3 separate regions of the Homo sapiens genome follow, and regions 1 and 3 are each linked to region 2. The links come from fine-mapping of genetic effects on gene expression. A gene starts in region 2. Each other region holds a variant in brackets. All regions are shown on one strand. Distances are from middle to middle. Region 1 holds the start of PLEC (plectin). Region 2 holds the start of PARP10 (poly(ADP-ribose) polymerase family member 10). Region 3 overlaps PLEC (plectin).

Region 1 (8,164 bases), 44 kb before region 2:
TCACACACTGAGACCCAGGCGCCCTCACCCGCAGCCCAGCCACACAGCAGAGACCCAGGTGCCAGGGGCCCAGGCGCCACCAGGTGCAGCCACCCCACCCCGGACTCTTCCCCCGAGGAAATGGGAGGGTCCTGGGCGCACCCTGAGCCCAGGGCACACAAGTCCCGTCCTGCAGTCCCCCCCGGCCTCTACAGACTGAGACCCAAGCAGGGGTGTGGCAGAGCCAGGGCCCGGGCCCGCTGGGGTGTTGGAAGGGAAGCCGCGTGTGCTGCTGACAGGGCAGCGAACCTTCCCCAGAGCGCAGAGTTCCTCGCCCTTCCAGGCCCGACATCTGACGCTCGGAGGCCCCCGTCAGCCTCGCGGGCGCCTGTCGGCCCACTCCGTGTTGGGTGGGGATGGCTGGCCCCCGACCCCCATCTCCAAGACCAGCCCCCCAGCGGTGCCAAGGCTTTCCTGCCACAGGAAGTGGGCCTTCCTCCCGCAGGGGCCCGCCCTGCCTGGCGGGGGTGCCCGAGGGGAGCCCTGCTACCTTTCTTGCCCTCAGAGGCCCTGAGCACAGCCAGGTACAGGTTGTCCTCCGAGCTGGTTCTCTTTCGGCCCAGGCCCTCGGGCTGCGGCACGCGGAGCTGGTGCTGAGACATGCTGCCCCCACACCTTCGTCGCCCGGACCCTCGGCCTCAGGCACGGTGCTCTGGGCAGCCCCGTGTGGCACACAGGCAGCTGAAGGCTGGCGGCCCCACGAGACGCTCACTCGGCACAGGCTCAGCTCAGAGCCCCAGTCGGTGCGGCCACTCCCTGCCTGCTGTACTCCCCGGCGAGGCCGGCCCGCCCCCGAGGCCCCACCCTGCCCAGGCCGCCGCCAGGGAGGGGAGTGTCCCGGCGGGAAGGAGCAAGCAGCCCCCTCCCCCACAGACACGCCCTCGGCCCGCCAGAAACAGGAAACCGGGGTTTCCTCACCCACCCCGACCACTGCAGCCCCCTAGGGGGACCTGGGGACACGGGGAGCTGGCACTTCACTGCACACCAAATGGTGCCAGGACCGCAGAGGAACACAGGCCGTCCCCACAGCCACCCAGAAGGACCCCCCAACAGACTGAAGGGCTCCCCCGACGGGAGGGGCTCTGAGGCCACGCCTCTCTTTGGAGCTCCCTCCAGGCCTGGGCCAGGCCCTGCTTCAGCCTCTGCCCACCCACCCTGCCAGGGCGGACTCAAGAAGCCGCTGATACCTGGCGAGGGGAGGGGACCTGCTGCCTGTCAGCTCTTGCAGCCCCCCAATCACACCTCTTCACAGACCTGCATGAAGCGGGGAGCACACCCTGCCCCATGGTGCCTGCCCTGGCCCTGGGGCCAGTGGGGTCCCACCCCAGGCCTGGCCCCTCCCAAGCTGCCCACCTGGCACATCCTGGAGCAGTGCCCACCTGCGGAGCCCACCCTGCCCCAGGCAGACACCTCACGTCGGAGGCGCGTAGCTGAGGGCTGACTCACGGAGGCCGGGCCTCATGGGGGAATGGAGCATCGGGAAGCCCCAGGAGGGGCCTCGCCAGTGAGTCAGGGATGGGGAGGGGGCCCAAGCCTGTGACTCACAGAGGGGAAGCCACACCTGAGGCAGGACCTGGGCGACCCCAGGGGTGGGGGGTGCTGTTTGCAGCTGGGTGGGGCTCAAGGGAAGCAGTCTCATGCTGTAAAGGGCAAAGGGCAAAGGGCCTGCGCTGGCTGGGGCCTCCGGCTCCCTGGGGTCCGGGGCGGAGCTGCCTCTGGCCAGCTTCTGGGCCTGCCCAGCCCACCCGACCACCATAGGAAAGAATGCGCTGCCCCAACCACAAGAATGTTCCAGCCGCACATCAGGCAGATTCGGTCCAGCTGGGAGCTGCACTCGGCCTCAGTTCTGGGAAGAGCTCACCCCACCTCATTCCTACTGCCCCTGAGGCCGTGAGGGGGCACCAGAACCCTCACAATGGGGGGTGCCCAAACCCCTCAGAGGTGGGGAAGCCCCCACTCCACGCCAAGGGGCACAGCCAGCCCCTAGGGCTCTGCCACATCGTACACGCCGCCCAACGAAGACACCCCTTGGTCTCCATGCATGGTCTCTGAGCCTGGCATGAGATTCAGGGTGACCCTCTTGCTCTGCCTGTCCGGCCCAGCAGCCTCCAGAACCTCAGGAGTCACCAGAAGCCCCCAAATCAAAATCTGACCCCGCACTGGTCAGCACCTCCAGTCTTGTGCCCAAGGGCACCCCGGACCCCACACCTCTGCCGCCCCTCCCTGGGTCCAAAGCCTCTGGAAACACTGTCGCCTCTTCAGAAGCCCTGGGCCAGCAGCTACCCTGAGGCCAAGCCCCGCGCCTGCTGGGTATGGGCTCTGGGGGCCCGGCCGTGACCAGGTGGCTCCTGCCTGCAGGAACGGGGCTGCCACTCTGCTGAGGCACAGTGTGAGATCCCGGAACAGCCAGGGAGGTGGGCACAGGGAGTCCACGACAGCTGGAAACTGGGAGCCGGGGCCAAGGTCCAGGACCCACGTGGAGCCCACCCCAGCCAGGCCCCTGTTCCAGCCTTCTCCCTGCCACTAACAGGCCTCCAAAGATGCCGCCCTGGGCCGGGCCAGGGTCAGGAATGGGGCAGGGGCTCAGGGAAGGGAAGGGGCACGGTGGGGACTCCAGACACGGACTCGGGCAAGGCTGGGACCGGGTGAGGAGAAGGGCTGGGGCGGGGCAGGGCTGGGACCAGGTGGGCTGGGGGCTCGGTCAGGGGCCTCCACCTCCCAAGCCTGGCTCAAGCTCCCCTTCCCTACTTCCTGCCTCTGGGTGCCTCTTTGCTCTGAGCTCTTCCCTCCTCATCACCTCCCCTCCCTCCCAGCCCAGCCTGCCCCGCCCCATCCAATCCTATTCTGACCCTAAAACCAACAGACACACCCGCCCCACCCAGCCAGGCTACACCCACCCTCTACAGCTGCAGCTCAGCTGGCTCTCCCACCTGGGACGCACCCAGAACACCCCCAGCTCAGGTGCCTCTGCACACCTGCCTGACACCTGTGCTGTCCAGGGCTGCTGACCCTCGGCCGCCAGCCCAGGGTCCCTCACGACAGGCACTGCCGTGGCCCTCTGAGGAGTATCGCCCCCGTTTTACAGGTGTGGACCCTATGGCTGAGGTCCCGCAGCTAGTGGAGACGGTCCTAGGATGGAAACCCCAAGACTGGGAAGGGAATCCCACTGGCCCAGGACTGCAGCAAGTCCACAGAAGGCCTGGAGCCCCGCCTTCAGCACCTCCTCCCTCCCCCGTGTCCTGGAAACCCAGGCCAAAGCCCAGGCTGACGTGGAACAGCCGGGGGTGGGCCAGCCCCGCCCCCTCCAGCCCCGCCCCCTCCAGCCCCTTCTCTAGAGACAAACAAATGGGGGTAGGGGAACATCACCCCGCCTTCCTCCCCAGGTGTTTCCGGAGCTCGGGGGCAAGGCTGCACCGGGCCAAGGCGCCACCCCCATCCCAGCCCAGGCGGCGGTTCCCAGCAGAGACCCAGCCCCACTAGGTGAGAGCGATGGTGGCCCCTTCTGTGCCACCGGCCACGCCACTGCACCCACCTACGCAGCACAGCTGCTGGTAGAGGTAGCCCCTGCGGGCCGGCTCGCAGCCCCCGTCCAGCCAGCACGGCCGCTCCAGCAAGACCTCCCTCGGCGAGGCAAAGGCGCCCCCCGCCCCCGACATGCCGGCCACGGCCGGAGCCCTGGTTCGGCCCACGGACAGTGCGGGGAGCTGGACCGCGGCGGCGCCTCTGCTTCCAGCCCACGCTGCGAGGCTGCCGGCTTCGCTCTCCACCTCTTCCACCTCCCCCCCACAATCCGCCCACTGCGGGAGCGAGGCCCAGACCCAAAGAACCTGCCCCTGGCGCGCAGCCCCGCCCAGCGCAGCCAGGAAGCCGCGCCCCAACCCACGGGCCGGGCTGGGAGGCTGCCCTGGGACTGAAGCGGCATGGGAGGGGGCCTCCCAGCAGGATGTGCGGTGGGGACTGCAGGGCCCAGGGAGGAAGGCAGGGCATGGGGCCAGGTGGTGGGCAGACAACGCTGGAGGCAGAACCGAGGAGCTGAGCCGCGTCTGGCACCACCAGGGAGTAGAGGCATCCTGTGAGCCAGGACCGTGGCCGAAGGGGGCAATTGTGGGCTGAGGTGGGGAGGCAGGGACAGTGTCTGGTCCCCAGCCAAAAACATGGATGGGGAAGAAGCCCTCAGCCCAAGTCCCATCCTGGCAGCTGAGTCCC[C/A]GGCAGCTCCGGGCGTCCCCAGCGCCACGCCTAGAAGCCCCATCTTGACTCATCTCAAGTCCGGGGATCCAGCAGAGGAGCTGAGCCAGGCAGCGCCCTCACTGCAGGAGAGGTCTGGCCAGCCAGGTCCCCGATAGGCAGTCCCTCTGGCCAGAAGCCCATAATTGAGGCTGCCCAATCCCCAGGGCCCCGCCCCATCCTGTGCTGGGCACGGTTGCCACCTGGGACCACAGCCCAGGAGCTGGTGACTTTGAGCAGGGAGGGCAGGGCACAGCCTGGCTGCCCCCGCCCCCTGTGCGGCCCGAGGGCATGAGGGCACCTGCCTCACCTGCGTGTGGCTCCACCCCCTGCTGTGTGTGCAGGGAGCCACCTCCACCTCAGTGCTGGCCGGACAGGCACCTGCCCACTTGTCCCTGCCACGGCGGCTGCCACAGGCCTCCCTTCGTGTGGGGGACGCTCCTGCCCTGCCGGCCTCCGCTTCCACCCACCTGTCCCGCACAGGCTGCAGGCTGAGGGCCACTGCAGAGCCCGCCCCGCCCTGGGACTGCAGCAGGGTCAGGGTCTACACTGCAGGGTGGGGTGGAGGGGCAACACTGCTTTCACTGACATTCAGCTTGGAAACAGGAAGGGGAGGGCGCAGGGAATGAAGGGGCGGGAGGCAGGCGGCCCCTCTGCCCCGCCTCGAGTCCCTGGCAGCCACCAGCGGGGCTTACCTTGCTCGTCCTGCGCCCACCGACGTCCCCTGCGCCAGTGCCACACAGCGGCCAGGGTGACAACGTGACCCACAACCACCAGGGAGGGAAACAGGCTGCCCGAGGGCTCCATAGCCGCCACGCGGAGCCGCCAGGGCTGCCCTTCCTGCGCTGGGAACCGGCTGCTCCAGGCTAGACAGCCCCCTCCCTGCGTGCAGGGCGAGCGAGGGGGAGCGCCGGGACCGGAGCCTGCCCTGCCCGCAGGACCGCCCCATACGCGGCGGCAGCCCCACAACAGCTCCCGCCCGCCTCCTCTCCTCCTCCCTCCGCGGGTCCGGCCCTCGGCGCCTCCCCACCCTCGCTCCCCACCCGGCCGGCTCAGCTGTCCCTGCGCAGGGCTACTGACGCTCAAGGTTAGTTGGCCTTAACCCCTGCGTCCCCGCGGCCACACCCGCCGGGAGGAGGGGCCAGCCGCACGCCTGGCCAAGCCGCAGCCCCCCAGCACTGCCCGCGGCCTCGGCACACACCCTCCCTCCCTCCCAGCCTCCCCCTGCTGTCCCCACCAGAAGAGGGGCCCGAGCAGCCCACTCTGCCTCCAAGGCTGCCCTCTGGGGACAGCTGGCAGGCATGGAGGGATGCCAGAGCCCCCACCTCAAGCCTGCAGCTGAACCCACTGCACTCCTTCAACTTCGCCCTCCTCACCAGCCCCAACACCCCAAAAGTGAGACTGCAGACCAGGGCTGAGGGGGTCTGGGTGAGGGCACATGAGGCAGGCTGTGTGCAGGGCGAGGGACAGCGCCCCTGGCCTCCAGCCTCAGCCCCAGCCCTCTGGCCCCTGTCCCCAGCAAGGGGCCAGGATTTCACAAGGCTTTCAAGGGCTGCCCACCTACCGGGCACGATCTTCATCGGGGACGGTGGCAGGAGCCCACGGGGCAGACGGAGCGGGCCAGGGGTGTGGGAGGTCACAGGCCCCTCGGAGGAGGCACAAGCCACTGGCGGCAGCGTCGGGTGGGAGGAGGGCACGGCCGTGCTGCTGTCAGCAGCAGCTTGTGGGGGAGGGGAGCAGTGGGCAGGGGCCCAGGGGATATAAATATCCGAGGAGGGCGCGCAAGGACCGTCACCACCCAGACTTGGAACATGACGCACGGCGCCAGGGCACCCAGGCCCCGCTGCAGTCAGGTCTGGCTGGACGGTGCCACCCGACACCTCGGTCCCCCAGCTCCCACAGGGGGTTCTAATATAATAGAGCAGGGCGCGGGAGGTGCGGGCTCACGTCCCTGCAGGAGGCGGTGCAGTCCCCACCCACCTGCCCTGCCAAGCCAGGGGGTGCTCTTGGAAAGGCCACAGGGGCCAAGAGAAGAGGCCGCCCATTCTCCCAGAGGGCCCTGCGCAGGTCACTCAACACAGCACCTGGCCCCACCGGTGGCCGGGACAGCCACCCCAAAGTCACGCGCAGGCCAGAGACCCAGGCAGCCCGAAACCAGGGCTCAGGCCTGCGCCTGCCCCACAGCACAGCCTCTCCTGGGGTCCCAGGGATCTGGGATGGAGACGCCTCTCCTGGGCCACGGCAGGAGACTGGCCTGGCTCCACCCAGGAGTCCCGAAGCCCTGCTCTGTGGAAGGCCTGGGTCAGAGAGCCGGGCCACAGGCAGGCCCACAGCATATCCTATGCAGATCAGATCCCAATGCAGCCGGGGAAACAGGACGTGGGACACGCACAGTCCTGCTCCTCTTCCTGGGACCCCTGTCTGCTGGGCGCACCCCTCAGGCCCAGGAGAATGCACGTTGACGGTATACCCCATTCCACAGCGTCGCTCCTGGCACCACATGGAACCCTCAGCAAACCCCATGAAGTCCTATACCATGAAGGCCTCATACAGACCAGGAGCCTGAGGCGCCGCCTGCTGTCCCGCACGCTGCCATCTGAGCCCAGGTGGCCTCCAGTGTAGTTACCTCAGCCCACAGCAAGGCACAGTGAACCAGCCTGGCCCCGGGCCACTGGGCAGGCCACCCAGGTCCATGCTGGGAAGCCCGCGGACAACAAGAGGGCCGGGCCCACCCCAGCCTCCTGCTCTCCAGCCCCACACCTCAAAAACGTGCGGCCGAGGGAAATGCCTGCAGTGGCCCACTCTGGGCGGCCAGGGGTCGGGCGGGCCCAGGCAGCCCTGAGGGTCAGGGATACCCAGGCATGCCAGAAAGGGCCCAACTCCCAGCTGAGCCCAGGACAGCATCTGGCCAGCAGTGGGCAGGGGCCGACAGGCCGGACGTTTCAGCCCACTCCCTGCCACGTGCTGGGGAAGCCTCAGAGGAGCCTGACTCAATGGCCTGGGTGAGAACCAGCTCCTGGCGGGAGGAGTGCCCCAGGCTGGCAGCGGGCAGTTCTTCTACCACTCCACGGAGGTCCGGACAGGCCTGTGCTTCCGGGACACACATCACACACACCCCTGGGGCAGCTCCGAGAGGGGGCTGTGCCTATCCCTGCATCCCAGGTCTGACGGCACAGAACGGTGGACAACGGGAAGAGACAGGTCTGCCAGAGGCGGCCCCGGCCCTCTCCTCTGCCTCCCACAGCCCCCAGCTCTGCCTGCCCTACCTTGGCCCAGCTGAATCAGCTCCTCCATGCTGTACCTGTCCATGGCTGCCACACAGGCCAGGCTGCTCCGAGAGCCGGCAGGGAGGAAGGCGAGGCAGGAAGGAGGGAAGGGGTGGGAGGCAGAGGGAGGGCCCACTCATGCCCTGGTAGCAGCGGCTCCTCCTCGCAGCCACCCCTTAGTCAGTAAGCAGAGATGAAGCCCAGCCGACTGACGGGTCAGACCAGCCCAGCAGACCTGCCTGGGGGTGCAGGGGACTGGCCTGCCTGCAATCCCAGAGAGCCCTCCGGCCCCAGCCCACGGGTCTTCCCTACTGTTCCTGCCCCGCCCAGCAGACCCCCCGCCCAGCAGACCCCACCCTGTAGCCTCCCCTTCCCGCTGCAGGCCCCACCAGCCCAGCCCTGCCCTCCCACCCTCCCACCCACATTCCAGGCATCCATGTGCCCAGCGGTATTTCAGGAGCCAGGCGGGAGCAGAGCCCCAAACTGCCCACCACACCCCACTCCTTGAGACTCACATTCCTCAGCCCCAAAGGTGGTCTCTTCCTCCACCTGAGTCCTCCCCAACCAGCACAGCCCCAGGCATCTGTCCAGGGGCAATGGTGACACCTGCCTCCCCTCTCCATACCTCTCCACCC
Region 2 (8,164 bases):
AGATGCCGTCTCAAAAAAGAGAGTGCCCCGCGCAGTGTCATCAGCACAGTGACCGCAGCGAGCCCGGGCCTTTCTGTGGAGGCAGAAGAGCGCCCAGAACAGCACAAGGGACGCATCTGTGGAGCGAGTAATCCTCAAAATGACCACAAGATGGCATCACCGCCCCATGCTCCAAATAAGGAAACTGAGGCCTGGAGCTGGTCCCATAGTCCCTGCTGACCCAGCCACGAGTGGCAGAGTGGGGACCCTCACTCAGGCCTATCAGATCCCAAGGCCCCCACTCTGTTCCCTCCTGTTTCCCTACCCACTTTGGGAACGCCCTCTGGGCAGAGAACAGGGCTGGGAGCCTGTCAGCTCCTGGTCAGCTGACCTTGATGTAGGCGAGAGGGACAGGCCACAGACTTGGCAAGGCGCTAATGGTGCAAGAGCCCAGGACGCCATGAGGCCAGAGAGACAGGGCATGGACTCACACGAACGACGCGGATGCTGCTGCGGGCAGCGTCCAGGGTGTCGTAGAAGGCCCGCACCACCTCCTGGAACTCCCCGGTGTTCTCTGCCAGACGCTCCAGGTTGTTCCAGGGCCCCTTCAGCGTCTGCCCCGCCACTGATGCATGGGGAAAAGCGGGGGGTCAGAGCCATGCCTGGGGCACTAGCCCCTGCTAACCAGCCCACCCCACCGTCCCTCAGTCCAGGAGGTAGACTCACAGGTAGGGCCTGAAGCTGCCAAGGGAAAGGCCAAACTCTGATCCCAGGGGCCAGCCAGAAGTGCCACCAAGTGGCGGGCAGCACGGGCAGGGTGGGCCCCGAAGCCACGGAGGATGGTGCAGTCACCACGCAGGGCAACACTCACACCATGGCACCGCTCCAGGCGAGCACGCAGCTCTGCAGGCAGTGTGCGGCGCCAGGGCCCCACCGTCTCCTCCTGGACGTGGACCTCCAAGGCAGCCCTGAGCGCCCGGTCCAGCTCCTCCACATCCTGCTCAAAGGCCGAGTGCACCACCAGCTGGGCCTTGCCATCAGTCCCCCCATCTGGGGGCTCTTCTGCCTCCAACGGGGGCTGCTCCAGCAGGGAGAGGGTTAGGGCTTGCCGCAGGGCAGCAGCCTCCTCCTGCTCAGCCACCTGACCTTGAGGCTCCAGTGACCGGTGGAGGGCCAGCTGCAGAGCGGCCTCCTCCTCCAGCCACCTGGGTGCCACAGTGCTGGGGGCCACAGGCTCCTCCTCCTCATGCCCTGGGGTCACCTCCTCCTCTGGCTGCTCCTGAGGCCCTTCCTCCTCCAGCTCCCGAGGCAGCCAGTCCTCCCCGTCTAGGTCTAGGCCCTCCAGGGTGGCCAGCAGTTCTCGGACCTCCTCTGGGGGCAGGGAGAGGCCATTGGGTCAGGGGCTGGACCCAGGAGGAGTTGGAATGGATGAAAGATGGGGAGCAAGTTTTTAGGGTACAGGGTGGGCCTAAGATGGGTCAGTAGACAGATGGGAGCACAGAGCAGGGCAGGGGGTGAGGTCAAGTGAGGGCCACAGGATGTGCTGAGGGCTCCCAGGGAGCCCTACCCAGGCTCACGTCCTCCTGGTCACCACCTGTACTGTCTGGGGTCCACAGGGTGTGGGCGTTGCCAGGGAGCACTGGGAGGGCCTCGGTAGGGTCCACCTGTAGGGAGAGGATGTCAGGACCACTAGCCTCTGGGCAAGGGCAGAGGAGGCCTGGGGCAGAGGCGTGAGAAAGGGGAGGGCAGGGGTGGGACTCCATCTCTACCTCTTCAAGGCCTGTGTCCAACGTGGCTGTGGCCAGGCGCTCTGTCCCAAAGACACACTGGAACTGAGCCTCCAGCCCCTGGAGAAGGTGCTGCCCTTCTGGGCCCAGGAGAAACCTGGCGCTGCCCGGGTGCTCCAGGCACAACACATGGCAGCTAATGCTGCCCAGCAGGCTCCGCAGAAACTCCTCAGCCGCCTGGCAGGAAGCCTGGGCTCCACAGAGCTGCAGGGCCATTGCAGAGATGGAGTTTGCAGGTTTAGAGCACAGGAAAGGTACTTTGAGTCCCCAGTAGGAGGAGGGGGCTGAAGGTGAGGAGTCCTGAGGGGTCACTCACCCGAAAGCCAGTCATATCCGGTCCTTCAAGTGGCAAGAGAGCGACGTCTCCCAGGCCCGCAAGAAGGTCCTCATGGTAGAGCTGCAGGAAGCGCATCGCCCCTGGCTCCATCAATAGCACCATCTCCACCAGGCCCTCCTGCCCTGCCAGCTTCACACATCCTGGGCTCACAGGCCCTGCCTTCTCCAGAGACCCCATGGTGATCTCCATGGGACCCACCAGCCCCTCTTGCTCTGGTGAGTCCATGGCAATTTCCACCAGGCCCTCCTGCCCCAGCAACCCCTTAGAGGTCTCCACTGGGCCTGCAGACCCCACAGGCCCCAGGCTCATGGGCCCCTCCTGTTCCTGCAACCCCACAGGCCTCAGGCTTACCAGCCCCTCATGTTCCAGAGACCCCATGGGCATCGAGCTGACTTGCTCTGCCTGTCCCAGAGACCCCATGGGACCTGTCCTCAGAGAGGTCCCTGACTGCCCTGGTTCCTGGCCAGAGCCTGTTGTCATAATCCCTCTACCCTGCACCATGGGACCTGTCCTCAGAGAGGCCCCTGACTGCCCTGGTTCCTCGCCAGAGCCCATTGTCACAGTCCCTGCACCCTGCAGAGCCGTCACCAACCCTCCGGTCCTCAGGAGAGCATGCTTGGTAGCCCTAGGCCCCTGGGTGGACGGGTGGTCCCCTCCACTGGTGTTCTCAGCCAGCTCCTCGGGCTCCAGGATGTCGTAGTGGGGGACAAGGCTCAGCTCTGAGCCCTGCAACCGGTGCTCCTGCTGCAACACTCGTTCTGCCACTTGGAGGAAGGGAAAGGACAGAAAGCCTGTCAGATTTCTGCAGGAGAGGGACGGTCGGCTGGGTCTGCCCAGCCCCACTCACCTTGCCACTGCTGGAAGGAGGCAACAGTGCCCAGGGGCCCGGGTAGGCGTTGCAGGTCCTCCAGGGGCCCCCCACCACTGCGGCGCTCATTCTCCAGGTACAACTCCAGCAACAGCAGGTCCACAGAGGCACCATCCCCCACCACACGCACCGCTCGGGCCTGGGGAACCCGGGCCAGGGACACCAAGGTCCCCTCCAGGCCCAGATTCTGGGCCTGCTCCTCCAGGACACGGACATCTGTGGGGTATGTGCAGGTCAGCTCAGGGAATCCCCCCTAGCCAGCACCTCAACCCCAACCCTGCCTCTCACCTGCCTCAGAAAGGGGCTTGGGCAACTGGACCAGAGCCCGGTCTGGCCGGGGGCTGGCCAAGGCACAGCAAGGCTGTACTGGGAGCCCCGAGGCCCGCAGCAAGGCCTGGACATGCTGCTCCAAGCGCTGGGGCGTGGTGCCAGGGGGCAGTCCTTGGAGCAGCAGGCGTGCAGGGGCTCGTGGTGGAGCTGGCCGCAGGCTCAGCTGGGCACCATGTAGTTCGTGATCTGCCTGGGCCAAGACCCTCTCGGCGTCTGTGGGCAGGGGCGGGGCAGGATGTCAGGCATTAGAATATCAGGGCACCCAGGCTGTCCCTTCAGCCAGCCCTCTCACCTGCAGGCTCTCTGAAGGTGAGGACGCCCCCACAGCCCAGTCTCTGCCAGCTCAACACAGGTCCCCCTCCAGAGCGTCGGCGGTTTTCAAAGTAGAGAGTGAGCAGCTCGTCGGGCACGGCAGGGGGCAGTCCACGGACCTCCACTGCCACCCCTGCCTCTGCCTCCGCCATTGCAACCCTGGGACGGGGCATCAGGTGGGTAGGGAAACAGCCCATTCCACCCCTCCTGCCCCTCCCCAGGCCCCTCCAAGGTGTGTCCTCAATGCTCCCCCATTATGGGTGGCCCCACATACAGCACTTACATTCCCCGTGGCCGCTAGGCAGCCTCAGGCCATGAGCTCAGCCAGGACTCCTGTGCCTGCCCCTCAGCAAGCCTAACCCTGCTGGGAGCAGGAAAACAAAAGTGAAACTGAAAGACGGAAGGAGGGAGGGAGCAGCTGGGCCCTGGGCGCTGAGGCCTGGGTACTGGGGCTCAGATGCTTCCTCTCCTGCTGCAGCCTCAACCCCCAGCTGACCAGGAGGTATTGGCCAGGCTGGACCCCTCAGGACCCTCCAGCCAACCCAGCCCAGCCCACCGGCCCTACCTGGCCCACTCCAGCCCCTGGTTGGCAGGGTAGACAGGAGTGTCCCCTGGTGGCCCTCCACTCCCCTGGCCTCCATGGCCTGAAAATGGCCAATCACCCGCCCCACTAAACCCACCAAGGGGCCTGAGTCACTGCCCCTCACTCAGGATCTCCAAGCCTCTGTGTCCATGACACCCTCTGCACACAAAGTGCTGGGTCTCCAGGCCCGCCCCCGGCCAAGGCTGGCCTTCAACGCCCCCAGCAACCTTCTCAACCCTGCTCCTGGTCCCTCACACCTGCCAGGTGCTGAGCATGGGCGGTTCCCCACCCTTGGTCTCCAAGAATGTGCATTGCAGCACAGCCTTCCTCCCGCCTCAGGTCTTGCCTGCCCATTCCTGCAGCTTTCTGTCCTGCCTGCACCTCCCCATCTCACACCATCATTGGCATCGTCACAAGTAACCTCAGAAGGTGACAAGGTAATGGCTCCACTGCATTCCTTGCTGCCGCTAATCCTCACCACAGAAAGGGAAACGGAGGTGCAGACAGGCCCATAGCAGCACCAGGCCTCAAACCTGGGCGGTGCCTTCAGAGTCCACACTCCCACTCGCCACAGATCTCCCACATCACCCAAGCTCCGTTTGCTTCCAGCCTTTCAAAGAGCTGTGGCCACTACCACTCTCCATCTCCTACTTCCCACTCACCCCTCAGCCCACCAAAACCCAGCCCCACCCCTGCTGTTCCTCCCTCCAGGGAGCTGAGGACCCTGGCCAGCCTGCACTCCTAGCCCTGCACATGCCACACCTCTGCTGCCCCGACCCTGGTCCCAGCCTCCAGCATCTCTCGCTAGGTAGCTAGGCTAACCTCTTAACTAGTCTCTGTCTGCCACTCCCATGGTGGGTCCTCAACAGAGGTGTCAGGGTGAGCCTTGTAAAATGACACCAGCAGCTGCTACAGCTCCCAGCATCAGCAACAGTAGAAACCAAAGTCCTGGGGGCCGGGCGCAGTGGCTCATGCCTGTAATCCCAGCACTTTGGGAGACTGAGGCAGGTGGATCACGAGGTCAGGAGTTTGAGATCAGCCTGGCCAACATGGTAAAACCCTGTCTCTACTAAAAATATAAAAATTAGCCGGGCATGGTGGCAGGTGCCTATAATCTCAGCTACTCAGGAGGCTGAGTCAGGAGAATAGCTTGAACCTGGGAGGTGGAGGTTGCAGTGAGCTGAGATCGTGCCACTGCACTCCAACCAAGGTGATAGAGTGAGACTCTGTCTAAAAAAAAAACAAAAACCCAAAGTCCTTTTGAGGACCTGCCCCCTGCCCAGCTGCACCTGACCAGACCTCAGTCCCTTCTCTGGCCCCATGCCCCCTGCACACCCTGATGCTCAGAGGGCTCCAGGCTCTCAGCTCTTCCTGCAGAGCTACAGGCCACTCCTGCCTCAGTAGCCTGGGACTGGCCCTTCCCTCTGCTTGGCCCTACCTTCCCCACAAACCCCCATGGCCACCCCTCTGGCATGATCTCCCTTACTCTGCCTTTTTTTTTTTTTTTTCTGAGACGGAGTTTCGCCCTTTCACCCAGGCTGGAGTGAAGTGCCGTGATCTCGGCTCACTGCAACGTCCACCCACTGGGTTCAAGGGATTCTCCTGCCTAAGCCTCCCAAGTAGCTGGGATTACAGGCACGCACCACCATGCCCAGCTAATTTTTGTATTTTTAGCAGAGACAGGGTTTCACCCTATTGGGCAGACTGGTCTCAAACTCCTGACCTCAGATGATCCACCTGCCTCAGCCTCCCAAAGTGCTGGGATTACTGGTGCCAGCCACCATACCCAGCTATTTTATTTTTATTTACTTATTTATTTATTTTTTGAGACAGAGTCACACTCTGTTACGCAGGCTGGAGTGCGGTGGCACGATCTCAGCTCACTGTAACCTCTGCCTCCCAGGTTCAAGCCATTCTCCTGCCTCAGCCCCCCCAATAGCTGGGATTACAGGTGCACACCACCACGCCCAGCTAATTTTTTTTTGTATTTTTAGTAGAGACGGGGTTTCACCGTGTTAGCCAGGATGGTCTCCATCTCCTGACCTTGTGATCCACCCGCCTCGGCCTCCCAAAGTGCTGGGATTACAGGCGTAAGCCACCGCGCCCAGCAAGCATTTTATTTTTCTTAAAGGTCTCTCAAATTTTGTGAGCTTCTGCTTCTACAAAGGTAGAAGTTACCTTCTACAAGGGTAAATCCATCCCTGCTTTTTCCACGTTTTCTCTAATGGAACTCATCACAGGTTATCCATTACGCCGACCCTGGCTGCAGAGGGCCTGCCACAGGCACCACTCACACCACAAGCAGACTGGTACAGTTTCGGGAATTTCTGTGGACTGGTTGTCCAGCTGGGGGTAACTTGAAACCAGCCCCGGTGGAGTATTCACACCACGCGCATGTGCAAAACACGCACCCCAGGCTTCCCCTCACTAGGTCCGGCTGCTAAACACTGCGCCAGCGCACCATAGGTGCAGGACTCAGAGCGGCCTGGGAGAGGCCGGCCCTCCAAGGGCGGGAGGGCAGGTGGGGTCTGGGCCCCGGGTGGGAAGGCTGGCAGCAGGATGTACCCTGCCTGTGTCAGTCACTGCTCCCCCAAGAGGACTTGGGAGCTAAGCAGGGAGGTGGCCTGGCCTCCAGTCCTGCTGCATCCCCAAGCCTCAGCCCCTCGCAGCTTGTGAGGACGTTAGGCAGACAAGCGAGCGTTCAGGGTCTCTAGTGTGAAAACAAGACATCGTATTTGTTAGTACAAAGGGTGACTGTGGTCAAGAATAATTGTACATTTTAAAACAACTCCAAGAGTATAACTGGATTGTTTGTAACACGAAGGACAAAATGCCTGAGCTGATGGATACCCCATTTACCTTGATGTGATTATTATCCATGGCATGCCTGTATCAAAACATCCCATGTAGCCCGTAAATATACACCTACTATGTATCCACAAGAATTAAAAAAATAAAAAAGGGTCTCTAGTAGCAGGCCTGGCAGAGTTTGGGCTGACAGAGCAAATGGGGCAATTAAACCACGAGGCCTCGATTTGGGAACTAAAGGATTAGGCTTCTTGATTTGGGAGAGATCTGGATGAAAAGAAGTGAACGTCGGGTTTTAAGGCCGAGAACGGACGGTCAGTCCCGGGCAGCTTCAGCAAATCCCGCATTTAGGAATAAATTTCTTAACTACCGAACGGCCAGTCAAATTGGCCAGACCAGACTTCTGCCTCCAGGGGTCTTCAGCGCCCACCGCCCGACCCCACCCCTCGGCAGACAGTGAGAGGCGGGCCTCTGGCCGGAGCGAAGAGGAACACGCAAGGCGGCGCAGCGGGAGGGGTCCGCGGAAGCCCCGCCCACCTGCCCCTCCCACCCCGAAGCTCGCCCGGCCCCGCCCCCTGCCCCGCCCCGTCACAAGGCCCCGCTGCGTCTTCCGAGCCGCAGGCGCAGGCCCAGCTGAGCGGCCGCCGAGCGGGTGCGGGTGCGGGCGCATCGGCCATCACCGCGCGGCCGCGCAGCGGACACCGTGCGTACCGGCCTGCGGCGCCCGGCCACCGGTGAGTCCCCGGCCCGAGCCCAGGAGCGCCTCTGACCCGCTGCGCCGCGCGGCCTGCCGCCCCCGCCCCCGCCCCCACGCGGATCTTGCGCATCCGAGCGTGGCCGCCTCGGGTCAGTAAGTTGGTCCGGCCGGGGCGCGCGGCAGCTCGCGGCCAGAGGTGGCGGCGGTGGTGGGGGCGGGGAGCCGCGGCGGCCTGGAGCCGGAGGGAGGGGGCGGCGCGCTGCGGCGACTGCTGGACCCGTGACCCTGTGCGCCCCCGGCCCGCGGAGGGCCCATCCGCTCTCGGTGCCAGTGCCACGGCCGCAGCCCCTACCCGCCTCGCCCCACGCCCGCTTTGTTCCCCGCACGCCCCGTGGTCGCTTCCATCCCCCACACACCCCCGCACCCCGCTGTTCCCGGCGTACCCCACTGGCAGGCACCGGCA
Region 3 (8,164 bases), 65 kb before region 2:
GGGGTAGGAGGAGGAGGATCCCACCGAGGAGGAACGGGAGCGGAAACCACCGGCGTTGCCCGAGAGCATGTCGGCGAACTCGGTGATGGAGAGCGTGCCGGCGCGGTACTGGTCCAGTGCCGAGCGGTCGATGAGGTTCTTGGCGATGGCATCATCGATGTCGTACTGGCGCCCGGAGCGGCGGTCGATGATCATGGACTTGACCACGCCGTCCGAGGAGGAGATGGTGATCTCCTCCCACTCGCACTCCTGCTCGGACAGCTCCAGGTACGTCTGGTGGTCAATCAGGCCCTTGCGGTAGGCCTCGTACACTGACATCTCCTTGCCCGTCTCGGGGTCCACGATGACCACTCGGCGCTTGCGCACGGAGGACTTGGAGGACGTCTTCCGCTCCCGCTTCTTCTCCTTCAGCGGCAAGAGACACAGGCCCGTCTGGGGGTCAGTGATACAACGCTCCATCAGCTGCAGGTAGGTGAGGTTCTCCTCCGTGTTAGGGTCAAAGAAGCCCTTGGTGTCGTCCGAGGGGTCGGTCAGGATCTCGTTCATCTCCTCATCGAAGAGGCCGCGCTTGTAGGCCACCTCCACGGGCAGCCGGTGGCTCTCCTCAGGGTCGATGATGCCGCCCGTGGCGATCTGGGCCTCCAGCAGGCGGATGCCATGGTCCTTCAGGATCAGGCCCTTCTTCATGGCCTGGAAGAGGGAGATGAGCTTCCCAGAGTAGGGGTCCTTGTACCCAGTGACGGCGCGCTCGGCCGACAGCAGCTTGTCCTTGAACTCGGGGCCCACAATGCCCATACGCACAGCCTCCTCCACCGTCAGCTTCAGTCCCTTGATGGGGTCGATGACGTAACCGGTGGCCGCCTGCGCCTCCAGGAGCTCAAAGGCTGTGCCGGGGCGGATGATGCCCTTCTTCATGGCCTGGTACACCGAGAGCCGTTCCTTGGTGGCGTCCACGAAGACACCAGCGATGCAGCTGGTGCCTTCCAGGAACTTCTGCAAGTTCTTGGTGACCTCCTCGATGGAGGTCAGGCCCTCCCGCAGCTGCAGCGCCGTGGCCTCGTCCATGACCTGCGAGCGCACCAGCTCCTCCATGGTGATCTGCTTCCGCAGGCCACGGAAGGTCAGCTTGCGGGCGTCCGACAGTGGCAGGAGCAGCTGGCCGGTGCCGTCGTCACGACGGCACCGCCTGAGCAGCTGCGTGTAGCTGAGGCGCTCGTCGGTGGACGGGTCCACGTAGCTGCGCACCTCGCTGGGCTCTGACAGCTGGTCGTGCGTGTCCTTGTTGAGGTAGCCACGCTGGTAAGCCACCTCCAGGGGAAGGTGGAAGCCCAGGCGGGGGTCCACGATGCCGCCGGTGGCCAGCTGGGCATCCAGCAGCCGCAGGGCCTCCTCAGTAGGGATCAGCTCCTTCTTCATGGCCTGGAAGAGCGAGATGGTCTGCTCGGTGTAGGGGTCACGGTAGCCGGTGACCGCCCGCTCAGCCGAGAGCAGGCGGTCGTGCAGCTCGGGCCCCACGAGGCCCTTCCGCACAGCCTCATCCACAGTCAGCCGCTCCCCCTTCACCGGGTCCAGCAGGAAGCCTGTGGCTGCCTGTGCCTCCAGCAGCAGGCGGGCCACCTCGGCACTCAGCAGCCCTTTCTTGAGAGCCTGGTAGATGCTCAGTGTCTGCCTGGAACCGGGCAGGTAGACACCAGCCACGGAGCCCGTGCCATAGAGGTAGCACCAGGCGGACTCCGCCTCGAGAGCCTCACGGAGGCTCCTGGTGCCCTCCCGGAGCAGGTTGTAGGTCTCGAGAGAGATGATCCGAGCCTCGAACAGGTCCTCAGCCGTGAGGCGGCGGCGCACGTAGTCGTAGGAGGCCAGACCCTGCTGGCGGATGATCTCTGTCTTCTCAATGATCTCGATGATGATGATGATCATGCGTTCCTTGGTCACCCGGCCGGCCTGGAAGTCAGCCATCAGCTGGGCCCGCTGCTCCTCGGGGATCAGGTCCGACTGCATCACCTCCCACAGGGACATGGTGGAGCCGCCGTGGCTGCCGCCGCCGGGAATGTCGATCTGTGTCTCTTCAAATGCCCTTCTTGTCTCCTCCTCAGTGTACACCTGCGTGGTCTCCACCACCTCAGCCTTCTCCGCCCCTTTCAGTGGCAGAAGGCGCAAGCCCGTCTCGGGGTCCTCCACGCACCGCTCCAGCAGCTGCCTGTACGTGAGGTTCTCATGCGTGTTGGGGTCAAAGAAGCCCTTGGTGTCGTCGCTGGGGTCCGCCAGGACGCGGTTCATCTCCTCACTGAAGTAGCCGCGCTGGTAGGCCACGTCCACAGGCACGCGGTGGCTGTGCACGGGGTCGATGATGCCGCCCGTGGCGATCTGGGCCTCCAGCAGGCGGATGCCGTGCTGCCGGAGAACCAGGCCCTTCTGCATGGCCTGGAAGAGGGAGATGGTGCTGCCCGAGTAGGGGTCTCTGTAGCCGGTGACGGCCTTCTCGGCAGACAGCAGCTGCTCGTGAAGCTCGGGGCCCACCACGCCCGCCTTCACGGCCTCGTGGACATACAGGCGCTGGTTCCGCACGGGGTCCACCAGGAAGCCAGTGGCCGCCTGCGCCTCCAGCAGGAGCGCAGCCGTTGTGGCTCTCAGCAGGCCCCGGCGCATGGCCTCGTAGATGGACACCTTCTCCTTGGTGTCCTCCAGGTAGATGCCGGCGAGGCAGCCACTGCCCTGCAGCAGCGTCCGCACGGAGCCCAGCTCCGAAAGGTCCTTGACCGTCGTCTTGCCGTCCTTGAGCTGCTCAAACTGGGCTCTGCTGAGGACCCCGGAAGCCAGGAGCTCGCTGGCTGGCACAGGGGCACGGAGGCCGCTGAAGGACAGCCTCTCCTGCCGCAGGGTCTCCACCTCCTCCACGATGGTAATGAGAATCTTGATGACCTTCTCCACGGTGACCTTGCCCGTGCGGAACTGACGCAACAGCTCCTGCCGCTGCTCCGCAGTGAAGTACTCAGAGCTGATGAGCTCCCACACCGTCACCGTCCTGCCCTTGAAGCCACCCACGGGGACCTCAACCGGGGTCTTTTCAAAGGTCTCACGGGCCTGCAGCTCTGAGTAGAGCTCCTCCTGCCGGGCCCGAGCAGCCTTTTCTGAGAGCGGCAGCAGGCTCAGCCCGGTCAGCTGGTCGGGCCGGCACCGCTGCTGGAGCTCGCCGTAGGTGGCCGGCTCCCCTGTGCTGGGGTCACTGTAGGCCTTGGCGTCGGCCCTTGGTGCCGACAGGGCCCTGCTGGTCTCCTCATCCAGGCAGCCTCGGGCGCAGGCGACATCCAGGGGCACGCGGTGGCTCTTGCTGGGGTCCACGATGCCGCCCGTGGACAGCTGGGCGTCCAACAGGCGCAGGCCCTGCTCCCGGGGAATGAGGCCCTTCTTCAGGGCCTGGAACAGGGAGACGCTCTGCCCTGTGTAGGGGTCCCTGTACCCTGTCACAGCCTTCTCGGCTGATAGCAGCTTCTCATGAAACTCGGGGCCCACCAGGCCAGCACGCACTGCCTCGTCCACGGTCAGCCGGGCGCTGGTGGCGGGGTCGATGATGTGCCCGGTGCCGGCCTGGGCTTCCAACAGGGCCACGGCCATGTCGGATGGCAGCAGGTCTTTCTTCAGGGCATTGTAGATACTCAGCTTCTGCCCCGCCTCCTCCAGCCATACACCCGCGATGACGTTGGCACCCCGGAGAGCCCGCCGCACAGTGTCCACCTCGGCTACGTCTCGCACAGAGCGCTCACCTCGCTGCAGCTGCTGGTAGAGCTCGCGGTCGATGACCCTGCTCTCCAGCAGCTCGGCGGCTGGCACCAGGCTGCGCAGGCCCTCAAAGCAAAGCCGGCCCTTCTGCTCCTGCTCCTCCACCACCGTGATGATGATCTTGATGATCTTCTCCACTGTGATCCGGCCCGTGCGGAACTGCCGCAGCAGGTCCCGCCGCTGCTCTGCCGTGAAGTATTCCGAGTTGATGATCTCCCAAATGGTCACCGTCTTGCCCTGGAACTTGCCGAACGGCGCAGACACGGTGGCCTTCTCAAAGACGTCCCGGGCCTCGGAGTCAGTGTAGACCAGCTCCCCGCCCTTGGCAGCCTTATCCGTGAGTGGCAGAAGGCACAGGCCCGTCTCGGGGTCCTCCACGCAGCGCTCCAGTAGCTGCAGGTACGTGAGGTTCTCGTGCGTGTTGGGGTCAAAGAAGCCCTTGGTGTCGTCGCTGGGGTCCGCCAGGACGCGGTTCATCTCCTCGTCGAAGTAGCCGCGCCGGTAGGCCACGTCCACGGGCACGCGGTGGCTGTGCACGGGGTCGATAACGCCGCCCGTGGCGATCTGGGCCTCCAGCAGGCGGATGCCGTGCTCCCGGACGATGAGGCCCTTCTGCATGGCTTGGAAGAGAGAGATCTGCTGGCCAGTGTAGGGGTCCTTGTAGCCAGTGACGGCGCGCTCGGCCGACAGCAGCTTGTGGTGCAGCTCGGGGCCCACCACACCCTCCTTCACAGCCTCGTTGACGGTCAGCCGCCGGTTCCGCACAGGGTCCAGCAGGAAGCCTGAGGCCGCCTGCGCCTCCAGCAGGATGAGGGCCGTGCCGGGACTCAGCAGCTGCCTCTGCAGGGCGGCGTAAACACTCAGCTTCTCATTGGTGGCCTTCAGCAACAGCCCTGCGATACTGCTGCGGCCCTGCAGGTAGTGGCGCACGTCTTCCCGCC[G/A]TGCGAGCTCGTCCACCGTGGTGTGGCCCTGCGCCAACCGCTGCAGCTCCTCCGCACTCAGGATGCCGGCCTCCTGCAGCCTCTGAGCTGACACCTTCCGCCGCAGGCCATCGAAGCTGTGCTCCGGCTCTGCCTCTGCCGCGGGGCCATCAAGTGCATCCCGGCCATTGGGCAGGGTCTTTGTGGCAGCCACCTGCGAGGCAGTGACCTCCTCTGAGTGCGCCAGCGCGGCCCGGTGCTGCTCCTCCAGGAGCTGCAGCTGCTCACGCAGCCTCTGGTTCTCCTCAGCCAGCAGCTCCTCCTGCTGCCGCCGCTGCTGCTCCAGCTGCTGCAGCTCCTCCTGCTTGCGCCGCACGCCCTCCTCGGCCTCATGCTGCCGCCGCCGCGCCTCCTCCATGCTGGCCACCAGCCGCTGCCGTTCCTGCTCCATCTGCTGCTGCTGCCGCTGCTGCTCCTCACGCAGCTGCTGTGCCTTGGCCACCTCGTCCTGGAAGAGCTGCTCCAGCTTGGCCTTCTCCTGCTCGATGAAGCGCTCCCGCTGTAGCAGGCTGTCCTTTTCAGAGAGGAAGCTTTGCTGCAGGGCCTGCGTCTCCTGCAGCAGCTGCTCCTGCTGCACCGTCTGCATCTGCAGAAGAAGAGGGTGTGATCAGGGACCGCCAGCCCAGGAGCACCCATCACCCACCAAAGCAGATCCCCGGGCCCACCCGCCCGTCGCACGTAGAGGGGGCGGTACCTCCTCAGACTTGAGCTGCAGCAGTTTGGCCTCCTGTTGGAGCTTCTCCTTCTCACGCTCCAGCTCAGCGATGGCCTCCCGCAGGCGCTCGGCATCATGGTCACTCTGCTGTCGCTGGATCTCCAGTGTCTGCACCAGGGTCACCTTCTCCTGGGTGGCGAGCTCCGTGCGGTGCAGCTTCTCACCGATCTCCTCCGCCTGCTTCCGGAAGCGCTGGGCGTCCTCCTCAGCGCGGGCCTGGGCTCGGCTCATCTCGGCCACACGCAGCTTGAGGCGCTCAGCCTCAGCGCTCATCTCCAGCTGCCGCTGCCGCTCGGCCTCCAGCGTCCGCTGGAAGCCCTGCGTCTCCTCCGCCAGCTGCTGCGCCATCTGCTCCTTGTCCTCCTGCAGCCGCCGCGCCTGCTCCTGCGCAAGCTCCTTCTGCTGCTGCAGCAGTTCCGCCTCAGCCTTGAGTCGCGTGGCCTCCTGCACCGCCTGCATCTTCTCCTTGAGCATCTTCTCTGCCAAGGCCCGCTGCTGTGCCAGGTCCTCCTCTGCCAGCTGCCGCAGTCGCGCAGCCTCTTGGGCCGCCACACTCAGCCGCGCGGCCTCCTCCGCCACCTGCTTCATCTTCTCAGCCTCCTCCTGCAGGAAGCGCTGCGTATTGTCCTTGTCACGCAAGATGAGTGCGCGGTTCTCAGCCTCGATGCGTGCCTTGAGCTTGCTCAGCTCCTCCATCTGCACGCGCACCGAGAAGAGCTCCTCCTCCACCTGGCTGCGCTGGCGTGCGGCCTCCGTGGCCTCCGCCTTCAGCCGCTGCAGCTCCTCGTCCAGCAGGTTCTTCTGGTGGTCGGTCTCCTCCAGCTGCAGCCGCAGTGTTGTCAGCTCCTGCTCCACCTGCGCCTTCTGCCGCAGCGTCTGCTCGGCGAATTTCTTATGCTTCTCCATCTCCGCGTCAGCTGCCTGCTTCTGCCGCAGGGCCGCCTGCTCCGCCTGTGCCCGCCGCGCCGCCTCTTGCTCGGCCTCCTTGCGCAGCTTCTCTGCAGCCGCCTGTGCCTGAGCCCGGGCCTGTGCCTGCTCCTCTGCCGACTGCTTCAGCCGCTCGGCCTCTTCCACCTGCCGCCGGGACTGCGCCGCCTCACGCTCCGCCTGCACCCGGGCCTCCTCCGCCTCCTCAGCCGCCCGCCGGGCCGCCTCCGCCTCGCCGCGCAGCTGGTCCAGCACGCTCTGCTCCTGCTGCAGCGTCTGCTGTAGCTCCTGCTCCTTCTGCTGCACCGCGAAGGCGTGTGCCTTCTCTTCCGCCTGCAGCCGCTTCTGGGCGGCCTCCTGGGCCAGCTGCAGCTGCCGCGCCGACTCCTGCTCCGCTCGCTCCCGCAGGCGCCGCGCCTCCTCCACCTTGGCTTTCAGCCGCTCGACTTCCTCCAGCGCCGCCTTCCGCTGCCGTGCGGCCTCCTCCTCGGCCGCCAGGCTCTTCTGCACGCGCTCCTCAGCCTCACGGCGCCGCCGCTCCTCCTCCGCCGCCAGCTGCCGCTGCCTCGCAGCCTCCAGCTCGGCCTGCTCCTTGCTGCGCAGCGTGTCCTCCGCGTTGCTGCGGATGCGTCCCAGCTCCAGCTCCAGCTCCGCCTTGCCAGCGGCCGCCTTCTCGAAGCTCGCCTTCAGCGCCAGGATCTCCTCCTCCACCTGCCGCCGCTGCCTCAGCGTGTCCTCCACCAGCCCCTTCTGCCGCTCCAGCTCGCTGTCCGATGCCTTGCGCAGCTGGGCCAGGCGCTCCTCGATGTCAGCCTTGTGTTGCGCGGCCTGCTCCTCCAGCCGCCGCCGCTGGAAGGCCTCGTCCTCCGCCAGCCGCCGCAGGCGCTCGTTCTCCGCCTCCTTCTCCTTGAGCGCGATCTCCGCCTCCGTCTTGAGCCGCGTGGCCTCGCCGATGGCGGCCAGCTTCTCCGCAAGCACCCGCTCCGCCTCGGCCCGCTGCCGCGCCGCGTCTTCCTCGGCCAGCTGCCGCTGCCGCTTGGCCTCTTCCGCCAGGGCACGCAGGCGGGCGGCCTCCTCGGCCAGCTCGCGGAACCGGCCGGCCTCGGCCTCCAGCCTCTGCTTGGACTTCTCGCTGGTGGAGCGCGACTCCTCCTCAGCCCTCGCCTTGCTGGCCAGCAGCACCTCCATCTCGGCCCGCACCTTGGCCAGCTCGGCTTCCAGCTCCTGCCGTTTCTGCGTGGCTGCAGCCGCCTCACGCTGCAGCCGGGCCAGCTCCTCCTCCAGCAGCTGCCGCTGCTGCTCCCCCTGCTCCGTCTCGGCCCGCAGCCGGATCAACTCCTGCTCCGCGGCCAGGCGCTGCTGCGCGGTGCCTTCCGCCAGCTGCCGCTGCTTCTCCAGCTCTTGTTCAGCCAGCTCCCGCTGCCGGACGGCCTGCTCCTCCGCCTTGCCGCGCCGCCGCGCCTCGCGCTCCGCCTCCTCCTTCTGCTTCTCAGCCTCGGCCTGCGCCAGGCTCTTCTGCTGCGCCACCTCCTCCGCCTGCAGCCGCAGCCGTAGCGCCTCGTTGGCCTTGAGCTGCCAGCGCTCCAGCTCCCGCTCTGCCTCCTCGCGCGCCCGCTCGGCCTCGGCCTGCTGCTGTGCCCGCCGCTCAGCCTCCTCCCGCAGCTGTGCCACAGCCACGTGTTCCTCCTGCAGGGAGCGCTCCAGCTGTGCCGTCTTCTCGGCGAAGGAGGCGCGTTTGCTCTGCAGCTCCGCCTCTGCACTG

What was found. PIP is the estimated chance that this variant, and not a neighbour inherited with it, causes the effect.
Region 1: its variant is fine-mapped to the expression of PARP10 in ovary (GTEx, PIP 0.98).
Region 3: its variant is fine-mapped to the expression of PARP10 in whole blood (TOPMed, PIP above 0.99).

What each region holds. Positions count from the first base shown.
Region 1 is chr8:143,938,821-143,946,984 of GRCh38, forward strand. PLEC (plectin) reads right to left here and starts at 777. Exons shown (of 32, transcript NM_201384.3): 1 at 530-777. The coding sequence starts at 641. MIR661 (microRNA 661) reads right to left here and starts at 6,459; the gene lies at 6,371-6,459. LOC124902040 (a long non-coding RNA gene) reads left to right here and starts at 5,044. Exons shown (of 2, transcript XR_007061144.1): 1 at 5,044-5,350; 2 at 6,746-8,164. RefSeq lists silencers at 394-493, 774-1,003, 3,251-3,340, 3,561-4,020, 5,091-5,360 and enhancers at 514-753, 1,164-1,223, 1,401-1,695, 4,241-4,490, 7,889-8,164. The variant C/A (reference allele first, on the strand shown) is at 4,246.
Region 2 is chr8:143,982,462-143,990,625 of GRCh38, forward strand. It overlaps PARP10 (poly(ADP-ribose) polymerase family member 10), which reads right to left and starts at 3,999. Exons shown (of 11, transcript NM_032789.5): 1 at 3,897-3,999; 2 at 3,594-3,772; 3 at 3,260-3,514; 4 at 2,951-3,187; 5 at 2,083-2,867; 6 at 1,749-1,970; 7 at 1,547-1,643; 8 at 706-1,350; 9 at 471-604. The coding sequence starts at 3,898. GRINA (glutamate ionotropic receptor NMDA type subunit associated protein 1) reads left to right here and starts at 7,595. Exons shown (of 7, transcript NM_001009184.2): 1 at 7,595-7,738. RefSeq lists enhancers at 3,662-4,101, 3,772-4,675 and silencers at 7,527-8,026, 8,047-8,164.
Region 3 is chr8:143,917,050-143,925,213 of GRCh38, forward strand. It overlaps PLEC (plectin), which reads right to left. Exons shown (of 32, transcript NM_201384.3): 31 at 5,455-8,164; 32 at 1-5,346. Among named protein-coding and RNA genes, the nearest start is that of PLEC, 18 kb to the right of the region's middle. The variant G/A (reference allele first, on the strand shown) is at 4,722.